Linked DNA regions of Homo sapiens: region 1 is linked to region 2. The links come from fine-mapping of genetic effects on gene expression. Tissue or cell type: whole blood. Region 2 holds a variant in brackets; the other region holds the start of a gene. All regions are shown on one strand. Distances are from middle to middle. Region 1 holds the start of FDX1 (ferredoxin 1). Region 2 holds the start of LINC02732 (long intergenic non-protein coding RNA 2732).

Region 1 (5,383 bases), 74 kb before region 2:
TAAAGCTACAGGAAGCACATTAGAAAGAATTCCATCATTTATACACACTACTGAAAGCCAGAGGTTTCAGCGTTGCTGTTCTTCTGAAGCACTCTAGAGCTAAGCTTACAGCAAAGGAATTCGAAATCTCTTACATCAGCCTCCTCTTCTATAAAATTGGACAACATTAATCTTATAGTTCTGACAATGTATGCAAAATACGTAACACATAGTAGAATTCAACACACACTGATTAATAACTGTTATTTAAAGACCAAGCCCTTTTGCTAAGAAGCCCAACCTGTTGGTCTGTATTAAAGGTAAACAGCCCTACAAAAAACTGCCAAGTAAGAGTATTAACAGGTTTACCAAAGAAGAGGAGAGGAGGCGGAAACGAAAGAAAAATGTAATTCTTAAGTTGAAAGAGTATGGAACCTAAGAGTCAGAAGATGTAGACCCTATGCTGGGAGTGGTCACTCACGCCTGTAATCCCAATACTTTGGGAGGCTGAAGCAGGCAGATTACTTGAGGCCAGGGGTTCCAGACCAGGCTGGTCAACATAGTGAAATCTCATCTCTACTAAAACTACAAAACTTAGCCGAGTGTGGTGGCACGCGCCTGTAATCCCAGATATTCGGGTGGCTGAGGCACGAGAATCGCTTGAACCTGGGAGGTGTAGGCTGCAGTGAGCCATGATGGCACCACTGCACTCAGGTGAAGAGTACACCAACACCTCCAAAATCACCACTAAAGAACTAACCCATTAACCAAACACCACCTGTGCCCCCAAAACTACTGAAATTTTAAAAATAAATAGAAATTTAAAATTTTTTTAAAATCCGCAAAAACTTCTTGAGTTCTAGTCCTAGTTTTGCCAGCTACTTAATATGAAATTTTTATTCCCATTTATCTACCCTCCCTACCTCATAGAATTGTCTTAAGAGTCATACGAAACAATACACGTGAAAGATCTTTGCTACCTGAATCACTGCAAACCCCCTTGTGTCACGGTATTTTAGAGTAAAAGGAGTTTTTCTGACTCTCAATTACTGATAGCTTATCGAGTTGTTAAACTTCAAAGACAGAACTACAGTTTCTAGAACTGCTCTGTCTGTCTATAAGAACTTTGTGCCATAACAAAGATGTTCTACACATACTTGCAATGTCCAATACAGTAGCCACTAGCCACATGTGGCTACTGAGAACTCGAAATGTGGCTAGTGTAACTACGAGATTGAATCTTTAATTTTATTTACCTTTAATTATGTTAAACTTCAATAGCCACATGTGATTAGTAGTTACGGTAGTTACAGCACAAGTCTCATTAACACAGTAAGAACTGGAAAATCCAGTTGTAGCTCCAAAGTCTGTAAGAGGAATGATAAGACCATGAATAGAAATTGTGCCAATAAAGAGGGCAGCAGGATTATGAGGAAATAGACGTGCTCCCCTTTAAAACAACCTGACATATCCAAATCCAAAAAACAAATCTGAGAAAGATAACTCCCAATTACTACAAAAACATTCATGTTCCCTTATACCAGTTACACAAGCATGTTCAATATCTGTCCCAATTGATTCAGTTGTCCAAAACTCATCCATTGTATAACAGAAAGCAAGGTACCCACACTGGTCAAAGACAGGGGGGGAAGTGCAGAGGAAACAGGAACAAATAAATCTGGCTTGCCTTCTCCCTGATTTCCCCCAAAGTTCACACAACAAAAATGTATGGAGCACCCACTAGATAACGGGATTAGTGGGGAAAAGATGACTGAAAGTCTTAGACCCTGCTCTCAGAGACCTCAAAAAGAAACTAGACAAAGCAGCGTACAAATCCAACACACTCTCCCTCTAGTTCTCGATTCCTGCTACCCTACATCATGCGGTCAAAGAGCTGTCGAGAGATCTGCATTATATAAATCGCCACCATGTTGGTAAAAATTATGTGTAAATTGTATCTCTAGTATATCTAAGGAGTGTCTTTGAAAAACAAATATGCCCAAGAACCTAAAACTTCAACACATTTGGGATAAATTGTCACATTTCTTTCAATATTTAATACAAAACTCTCTTAACATTGTGAACCTAAGAAGCTGCTGCTGCTGCTGCTGCTGCTGCTGCTGCTGCTACCAAGTGGCATCTACTGAGCCCTCATTACGTGCTAGGCACAAGACTACCTGTATCGCTGTATTAACTCATTGATTCTTCAATTAACCATAGGAGGTCTACACTGTTATTATATCCAACTTGCAAATGGAGAAACTGGGTTCCTAAGGACTGACCAAGTTAGGCACGTCAGACAATCAGTGCCAAAGCCAAGTTTCAAGTCCCGGCAGATTACTTCAACGCAGGGGCTTTCAACACTTGAGCAACTAGCAAAGGGCCTACAGGGCAGCAGAGGGTATGGGCTGGGTGTATTCTACCTGGACACCCCCTGACAAAGACCTGGGACCTGGGTGTCCTCTCAAAGCAGGGCAAGGCCCTGAAAAAAACAGCTGGCAGGTGTGTCAGGCCAGGACAGCAGGAGGGAAGCCTGTCGCGAAGGTCACTGCCAGTTTCGGGCAGAGCAAAGGTCAGATCCCAGACAAATCACACGGAGAACAAGCAGCAGCAAAGTCCCGGCTTTCCTCAGGGCACGGGAAGCGCTGGGAAAGGGAGCTGGGCGTCCAGGGTCCCCGATTCCCGCCGGGAGTGGGTGATGCGGAAAGGAACTCTGCGGTGCGACGGAAGGGAGGCAGCGACGCCACCGAGCAGCGAGACGGAGCCGCGAGAGCACCCCAGAAGAGGGGGGCGAGAGGCAGGCCTCCGGGGTGTGGGCCCGGCGCGCAGAAGGCACTGGAACCAGAGACTCGGCCCAGAGAGCCAGGCGCCACCCACCGGGGACCCCGGCCCGCGCCGGCGATCGCGCCCGCACGGCGCCCTACCTGCTCCGGGCCCGCGCCGACACGCTCAGCGACCGGCTCGCCTCCGCGCTCCCGCCCGGCCCCCGGTTCCTCAGCAGGCCGCTGGATCCAGCGCGGGACCCAGCGTGGTGCAGCCACCGGCCGGCCGGGCCGCCGAGGACAGCAGAAGCGGCGCGCAGCAGCCGGGCGCCCCCAGCGGCAGCCATCGCCCGCGGTCGGGAACTGCCGGAAGCGACGCAGGCCGCGCTTTGAGGCCGCGAGAGACTCCAAAGAGGCGGGGGCGGCAGCTGCGGCGCAGACGCCCGAGGGCCGCGGCGAGGGGCGCGGGGCTGGAGTGGCGGAGAGACCCTGCTGGAAGCACCGCGCCGAGGTTCCGCGTGCCTTCCGGGTGACCTATAAAGACATTGGCAAGCAGAGCGCGGCCCCGCCCCGCCTCTCACGCCCACGCCGCCCGGTCCCATGGGGCGGGGCCAGCGCAGGGGGCCTTTACCAACCCTCCAGGTTCCGTTGTAAGCTGGATGCTTTTTTAGCGGCTGAAGTTGCCGTGCAGAAACAAAATATTTTGAAAGATAGCTGGACGTCTAGCGGAAATCGGTTAGCTAGACCACTGTGTTCTGTTCCGCATACCCCCATCCCCTAGCCGTTAAAAAAAAAACTGGGAAATTGTGTCATCTTGGAGTCAAGTTAGAGCAAAGTGAATTCTGCCCACTGTAAAACAAAAACAGTGGGAAATTTTGGAAAATCTCAGAATGCTATTATACAAAGAAATAATTATGACTATAAAATTGTAAATGAAATTAATGAATAGGCTTGGGGCTCCTGCAGAGGACAGGTAGCCATCCTAGACCTTGACTGGCAAGTAAATGCTGGCTGAGTACATGAAACCCACGAGACTGAACCGGAAACTTTGTGATGAGCTGAGATCTCTAAAAGACTTTCACAAAAAACAGAAAAGATGAACTTTAAAATACACCTTATCATGGTTCATATGTTGTGGGAAATGCATGGGCTTTAAGGTCAGAAATAGCAATGTTCAGATCCAAGATCTACTGCTTTAGAGATCTGAGACCTTGGAAAAATTATTCTCATGGAGGATCAGAGTTTCCATAACTCTCAAACACAGATAAGATGTTCCAGCCTTCAGGGCCATTCTGATGTTAATCTAATACGCAATGCACACCGTGCGTCACAAACCAGGAAGGCTACCGCTTCCTGGGCCTTCCTCCATCAGGGTACTCATAAAGAGGCTAAAGGCCAAAGTCAAGGGGATATTGCAGATATGCTAAACACAATCAGATACTTTTTTTTTCTTTTTTTGACATGGGGTCTCTCTATTCTGCCCAGGCTGTAGTGCAGTGGCGAAATCTCGGCTCACTGCAACCTCCGCCTCCCAGGTTCAAGTGATTCTCCTGCCTCAGCCTCCCGAGTAGCTAGGACTACAGGCGTGTGCCACCACACGCCACTAATTTTTGAAGATTCAGAACAAGAAAGTGTAAGCATGAGTAAAGTATCTGCGGACAATGTATGGTGCTTTCTGGAACCCAATGGCAGAGAGAAGGCAGTGGCTCCTAATTGCCTCAAATCGTTGGATGAAGAGAAAGTCTTTCAAGCTGCGAAGGGCACAGCAAACCCTGACAAGTAATCTTGAAGAGGAGGTTGTAAAAGAACAGCTAACTTTTGTTTTTAGTAAGACCAAACTTCCAAGGTCGGATGAATTAGTTGTAGGAAGAGAATTGAAAAGAAAAAAAATCGTAGATGTTCTGTCTTCTCTCAGCCCTCCTGTAGCAAATACAGTTTCAACTCCCTTAAGGCACTTGATAGCTTTCTGCTTTGTAGGGTAGTTATTCGTACACATAGAGTAGTTATTTATATAGTTCATCTTAGTGACTCCGACAGCACCAGCTACAGGGTCTTGAACATATCAAGGGTCTAATAAATATTGGTGAATAAATTGATGTTATGAAATTTCCATTAATAATCATCAGAATTCATTAAGCATGTATATGAAGATTAAAGATAGAAAAAATGTTCTCCAGGTTTTCTAAGGTGGATGAGAAGTAATGCCAAAAATTGCAAATATCAGTAGTCAGCAGAATTCCAGAATGGATTTGTAAACATGATCATGAATACAGATAAAGCAACATGGAATTACTGAGGACGTGCTTTTGCTTATCTGTTTGCTTATGTATTTCTTTGTCTATAAAACTCCCACCCCTCCATCCCTTTTTTTTTCTTTTTTTCCTTAGAGATGGGGTTTTGCCATGTTGCCCAGGCTAGTCTGGAACTCCTGAGCTCAAGCAATCTGCCCACCTCAGCCTTCCAAAGTGCCGGGACTACAGGCATGAGCCACCATGCCCAGCCCATCTTTTACTCCTTTCAAAATCCATTCATTGTTTGAAGACTTTTGTCTTATTCTGTTTATGATGCTATAACAGAATAACACACAGACTGGGTAATGTGTAAAGAACAGGAATTTATTTTCTCACAGTTCTGGATACTGG
Region 2 (5,383 bases):
GCATGAACCCGGGAGACGGAGCTTGCAGTGAGCCGAGATCGTGCCACTGCACTCCAGCCTGGGCTACAGAGAGAGTCTCGGTCTCAAAAAAAAAAAAAAAGATTATTTTTTCTTCCACATGGGGTTTATCCATACGAGTCAATTATAGAAAACCTATGTGCCTACCGCTGTGCTGAGTGAAGGATCACTTCCACTCAGGATTCTCATTTTTAATCCTCAGAAGACTTAATTATAATTACAGAGCAGAATGTAAACATAGTAAACCATGAATATACACACACACACACACACACAATTGAGAGGTGGACTCTCTTATATAAATGGGAATCAAAAGACTCTGTCTAAATAAATAAATTTAGAAATGGAAGTTTAGGTACATTATTTAAAGTTATAAATAATAATTTTAAATATAATTTTTAGAAAAATTAGGGCTGGGCGTGGTGGCTCACGCCTGTAATCCCAGCACTTTGGGAGGCCCAGGTGGGCGGATCACGAGGTCAGGGGTTCGAGACCAGCCTGACCAACATGGTGAAACTCCGTCTCTACTAAAAATACAAAAATTAGCCGGGCATAGTGGCACGCTCCTGTAATCCCAGCTACTCAGGAGGCTGAGGCAGGAGAATTACTTGAACCCAGGGGAGAGAGGAGGAGTTTGCAGTGAGCTGAAATCATGCCATTGCACTCCAGCCTGGGTGACAGAGAGAGACTCTGTCTCAAAAAAAAAAAAAAGAAAAAAAATTAAAAATTTTATAATACAACTAACACAAATTGGAGATGGAGAAGAACAGAAAGATTGGGAGGAAGTGTAAACACAAGAAATTTCCCATCTTTTTTGAAGTCAGTAGGTACTTTCTAAAGTTGACAAAGGGAAAAACAGAGCTGTAAGCATGGAATTTTAAATTATAATGGCAACCGCCACACCATCTAACAATAGCCGATGACAGTGCTTGTTTCTAGAGCATGGGCCTAGGCTGGAATGGATGGAGGTCATATTCATTTTACACCCTTCTTTTTCTACTGATAAGATTTTTTCTTATTATGTGCATGTATAACTTCTATAAAATAACATAAAATAACAACAATAATATATATTTACGTATAAATTTATATTATATGTAAGTATATATAGATTTGTATACAGTATTTAAATAAATATTTTCATTGAGTGAAAAGATGCCAAATTATCTTTTCCACAAATATAACAATAATATTTATTTATTTATTTATTGAGAGGGAGTTTTGCTCATCACCCAGGCTGGAGTGCAATGGCACCATCTCGGCTCACTGCGACCTCCAACTCTTGGGTTCAAGTGATTCTCCTGACTCAGCCTCCCATGTAGCTGGGACTACAGGAGCCCACCACCATGCCCAGCTAATTTTTGTATTTTTAGTAGAGACGGGGTTTCACCATGTTGGCCAGGCTAGTCTCGAACTCCTGACCTCAGGTGATTCACCCACCTCGGCCTCCCAAAGTGCTGAGATTACGGAGGGTGAGCCACTGCGCCCGGCCAACATAGGCTATTCTGTAACTGAAAGATGAGTTGCTTAGTCATGGCTACTAAACGTCCTCCATACTTAGCTAAAAGCTCATGGTTCTTAGGAAAGGTGTCTTAGGACAAAGAGAATTTAGGATATTAATTACTCTCTTTTTTAAGTTGAAAAGAAAAAGTAAAACCCTTCCTTCTTGTGACTTAGTCTACAAAAAAAAAAGAAAAAAGAGAAAGAAAGAAAAAGTAAAAACCTCTCCCCAGCTTTTCTGATTTTTGGATTTGAGGAAAGTTGCAAATACTGTCTGTCCTAAACTTTTTGACATTACAAATGACTCAAAACTGCCCAAGGGACTTTGAGACTTTTCAGAAAAGGAATTTATCACTGAGGATTACTCATCTGTCAAACTAGAATAAAATGTAGTTTTGTGTGAGGCGACCTTCTTTCACAGTTACTGTTTATTGAGCCCAGGAATGCTATGGCATAGAGGGCAGGGTGTGAGTCAGAAAGCCTTGCTGTCCCAGCTGTGTCCCCAACTAGCCAAGTGACCCAATGCCACCCACTTAATCTTTAGTTCCTTCATTTGTAGAGTGTGGATAAAACAACTCTTCTCACCGCTTCATATTGTCCCTGTGAGGATCAGAGAGGATAAATCGAATGAAAGTTCTTTGAAACCCTACAAACTACTATAAAATTACAGTGTTGTAATATGTGATCATGGATTTCAAAGTTGGAAAGAACTTAGACCTTATCTAGTCAAACTTATCTAATTCATAGTTTCTTTCTCTCAGTCTGTTACTTGCTTAGAGCCACTATGTTTATTATTACTGTTGTGACACAAATTGATTTAAAATTATATCCTTCTGAATTATGTCTGTTTCTAAAATTTTATAGACTCATAGGCTATTAATGCTGCAAGGGACTTTGCCAATCATTTCATCTAATCCCCTTGTTTTAAACATGAAGCAATAGCAGCCGAAAGAGGGTGACTGGCCTTAGATAAATACAGGACAATGAACTCAGATCTTAGATTAAAACCTAGATCTCCACATTCCCAGGCATACAGACCTTTCCTACGTCACTGCTGAAGCAAGAAAATAATGGCCATTTGTGGATAAGCTTAGTTAATTGAGGTGTATACTGCCCTGACAAGATTACACTAATCATTCTAACCATTTTTATAACTTTCAAAAG[A/G]TTTTTCTTTCCTCAAAAAGGAATTACACAACAAAAATGTAAAAATAAAGGAAAAACTTTTTAAATTAAAAAGTAATAACACTTGAAAAAATAATATACACACTCATATCTATTCTTTAAATGAAACTAAGATTTTTTTTTTTTTTGTGGGGGATGGAGTCTCGCTCTGTTGCCCAGGCTGGAGTGCAGTGGTGTGATCTCGGCTCACTGCAACCTCCGCCTCCTGGGTTCAAGCGATTCTCCTGCCTCAGCCTCCCGAGTAGCTGGGACTACAGGCACCCACCACCACGCCTGGCTAACTTTTGTATTTTTAGTAGAGACAGGGTTTTCATCATGTTAGCCAGGCTGGTCTCGAACTCCTGACCTCAAGTGATCTACCCACCTCGGCCTCCCAAAGTGCTGGGATTACAGGCGTGAGCCACTGTGCCTGGCTGAAACTAAGATTAAGTACTAGAACAATTAGGCATTTAATAGTCAAATTAATTACCAACATTTTAGTATAACTTGGTTTAATTTAGTCCCTAATACAGATCCTTAGAAGCGGGGCAGAAGAATGTAAATGGCAAAGAACACAGTGTTTAAAATCAAACAAACATGGGTTCAATTCTAGCTCTGCCATTTACTAGCTATGTAAATTTTGAAAATATATTCAACCTCCTGAAGCCTCAGTGTCCTCAATATATAAAGGGAATAGTAGGCTGGGCGTGGTGGCTCATGCCTATAATCCCAGGACTTTGGCAGGCTGAGGCCAGAGGACCATTTGAGCCCAGGAGTTCGAGACCAGCCTGGGCAACATAGTGAGACCCCCAACTCTAAAAAAAATTTAAAATTAGCCAAGAGTGGGTGGCACACACCTAACATCCCAGCTACTGGGGAGTAGGGAGGGGGAGACGCTCAGGCAGGAGGATCTCTTGAGCCCAGGAGGTTGAGGTTGCAGTGAGGTGTGCACTCTAGCCTGGGTGACAGAGTGAGACTCTGTCTCTAAATAAATAAATAAAGGGAATAGTAATGAGAATTATTTCATAAGTTGGTTATGAGAATTAAAAAGTAATTCATATAATTCTATAAATGAGACCAGTCATTGTTCTCACTTGGTATTTTACAGCCCAGAAACAATTATAGCAATTATTTGCTCAAGACTGCTCAGCTAGTATGTGGAGGCAAAATTGAAACCCACGTCTTCTGGCTCTGCTCTTTACACCTGCCCACACGACCTCCCTACCCAGCACTACATTAACTCACCTTCCGCCACCTCACTGTTCAGTTTTACTAAAAGTTCCAGCTCTTTCCAAAGGAGAGATTTTTCTTCCTAAGTAAGACAGCTCTTTCAGCCAGTTTCAGATGATATGCCTTCTAAAAGGCAGTGTCTCTTTTGGTTGCCAAAGGTAGTCACTTGACTCTTTTAAGATCACAGATTCCATGTGCCGGGTCCATGCTGAGGGCTGGCAGCCTGTCTGTGTCACACAACCCTCTATTGTACTCTTATCCCTCCTAGCCGACTCCGACCCTGTGTTCCATGAGGAGGCACACGCCTTCACTCCCTTCCCCCACCACAGGCTTTTCCTTCTCCTGCCAGGCTGGGAAGGACTTTATCCTTTTTCATAAGTGCTGAGCCTGTAGGACTCAAATCCCCTCAGGCATCCTTGATTTTTCTCAAAAGTCCTCATGCAAATTTGACTCTCCCTATCCTAGAGATTAGGAGACCTTGACATTTTTATTTTTGAATCTCTTGGAGCCAAGCATAAGCTGACACATCGTTAGCACTCTTAAATGTTTGCTGAAAAAAATGTGGATAAAAGGAAGGAAGGAAGGAAGGAAGGAAGGAAGGAAGGAAGGAAGGAAGGAAGGAAGAAAGTAAAGAAGGGAGGGAAGAGGGTTTTACATATCATTCTAGAGTTCCCGAAACAGACATAACAATGCAGCCAACTCACTAGCTCCAAAAGCACTTGAACAATATTTATACATTTATCTATTTATCAAACTATCTATATCAGAAAAATATCAGAACATATTGATAACTGACAAATCTCTTTCACTTTAGTCTCAGAAGTCACGTTTAAATGCTAAGTGAATATCTGTGTCAGGGAAAGAGAGAGCAACAGAGAAAGAGAGAGAGAGAATGAGTTGGGTTTGGACCATGAAAGACTGATTCGGTCACCCAGTCTGATTCTGTCACCCAATTTGGAGTGCAGTGGTGTAATCACGGCTCACTGCAGCCTCGATGTCCCTGGCTCAATGGATCCTATCACTTCAGCCTCCAGAGTAGCTGGGACTACAGGCATGAGCCACTGCACCTGGCTAATTTTTGTATTTTTTGCAGAGATGGGGTTTTGCCATGTTGCCCAGGCTGGTCTCAAACTCCTGGGCCCAAGCAATTCCCCCACCTCAGCCTCCCAAAGTGCTAGGATTACAGGGGTGAGCCACTGTGCCCAGCCCGTAATGATTAATTTTATGTGTCAACTTGACTGAGCTAAAGGATGCCCAGATAGCTGGTAAAACATTATTTCTGGGTGTGTCTGTGAGGGCATTTCTGGAGGAAATCAGCATTTGAATTAGTAGACTGAGTAAAGAAGATCTATTTTCATCCAGTCTGTTGAGGGCACAGATAGAACAAAAAGGCAGAGGAAAGGTGAATTCACTGTCTGCTTGAGTTGAGCCAACCATCTCCTGATGCTGTAAGACATAGGAGCTCCTGGTTCTC

Evidence for each region.
Region 1: FDX1 starts here. The variant in region 2 is fine-mapped to the expression of FDX1 in whole blood (INTERVAL, PIP 0.92).

What each region holds. Positions count from the first base shown.
Region 1 is chr11:110,427,826-110,433,208 of GRCh38, reverse strand. FDX1 (ferredoxin 1) reads right to left here and starts at 3,261. Exons shown (of 4, transcript NM_004109.5): 1 at 2,904-3,261. The coding sequence starts at 3,088. RefSeq lists an enhancer at 2,448-2,727 and a silencer at 2,798-3,447.
Region 2 is chr11:110,354,060-110,359,442 of GRCh38, reverse strand. LINC02732 (long intergenic non-protein coding RNA 2732) reads right to left here and starts at 4,329. Exons shown (of 4, transcript NR_135100.2): 1 at 3,925-4,329. The variant A/G (reference allele first, on the strand shown) is at 2,683.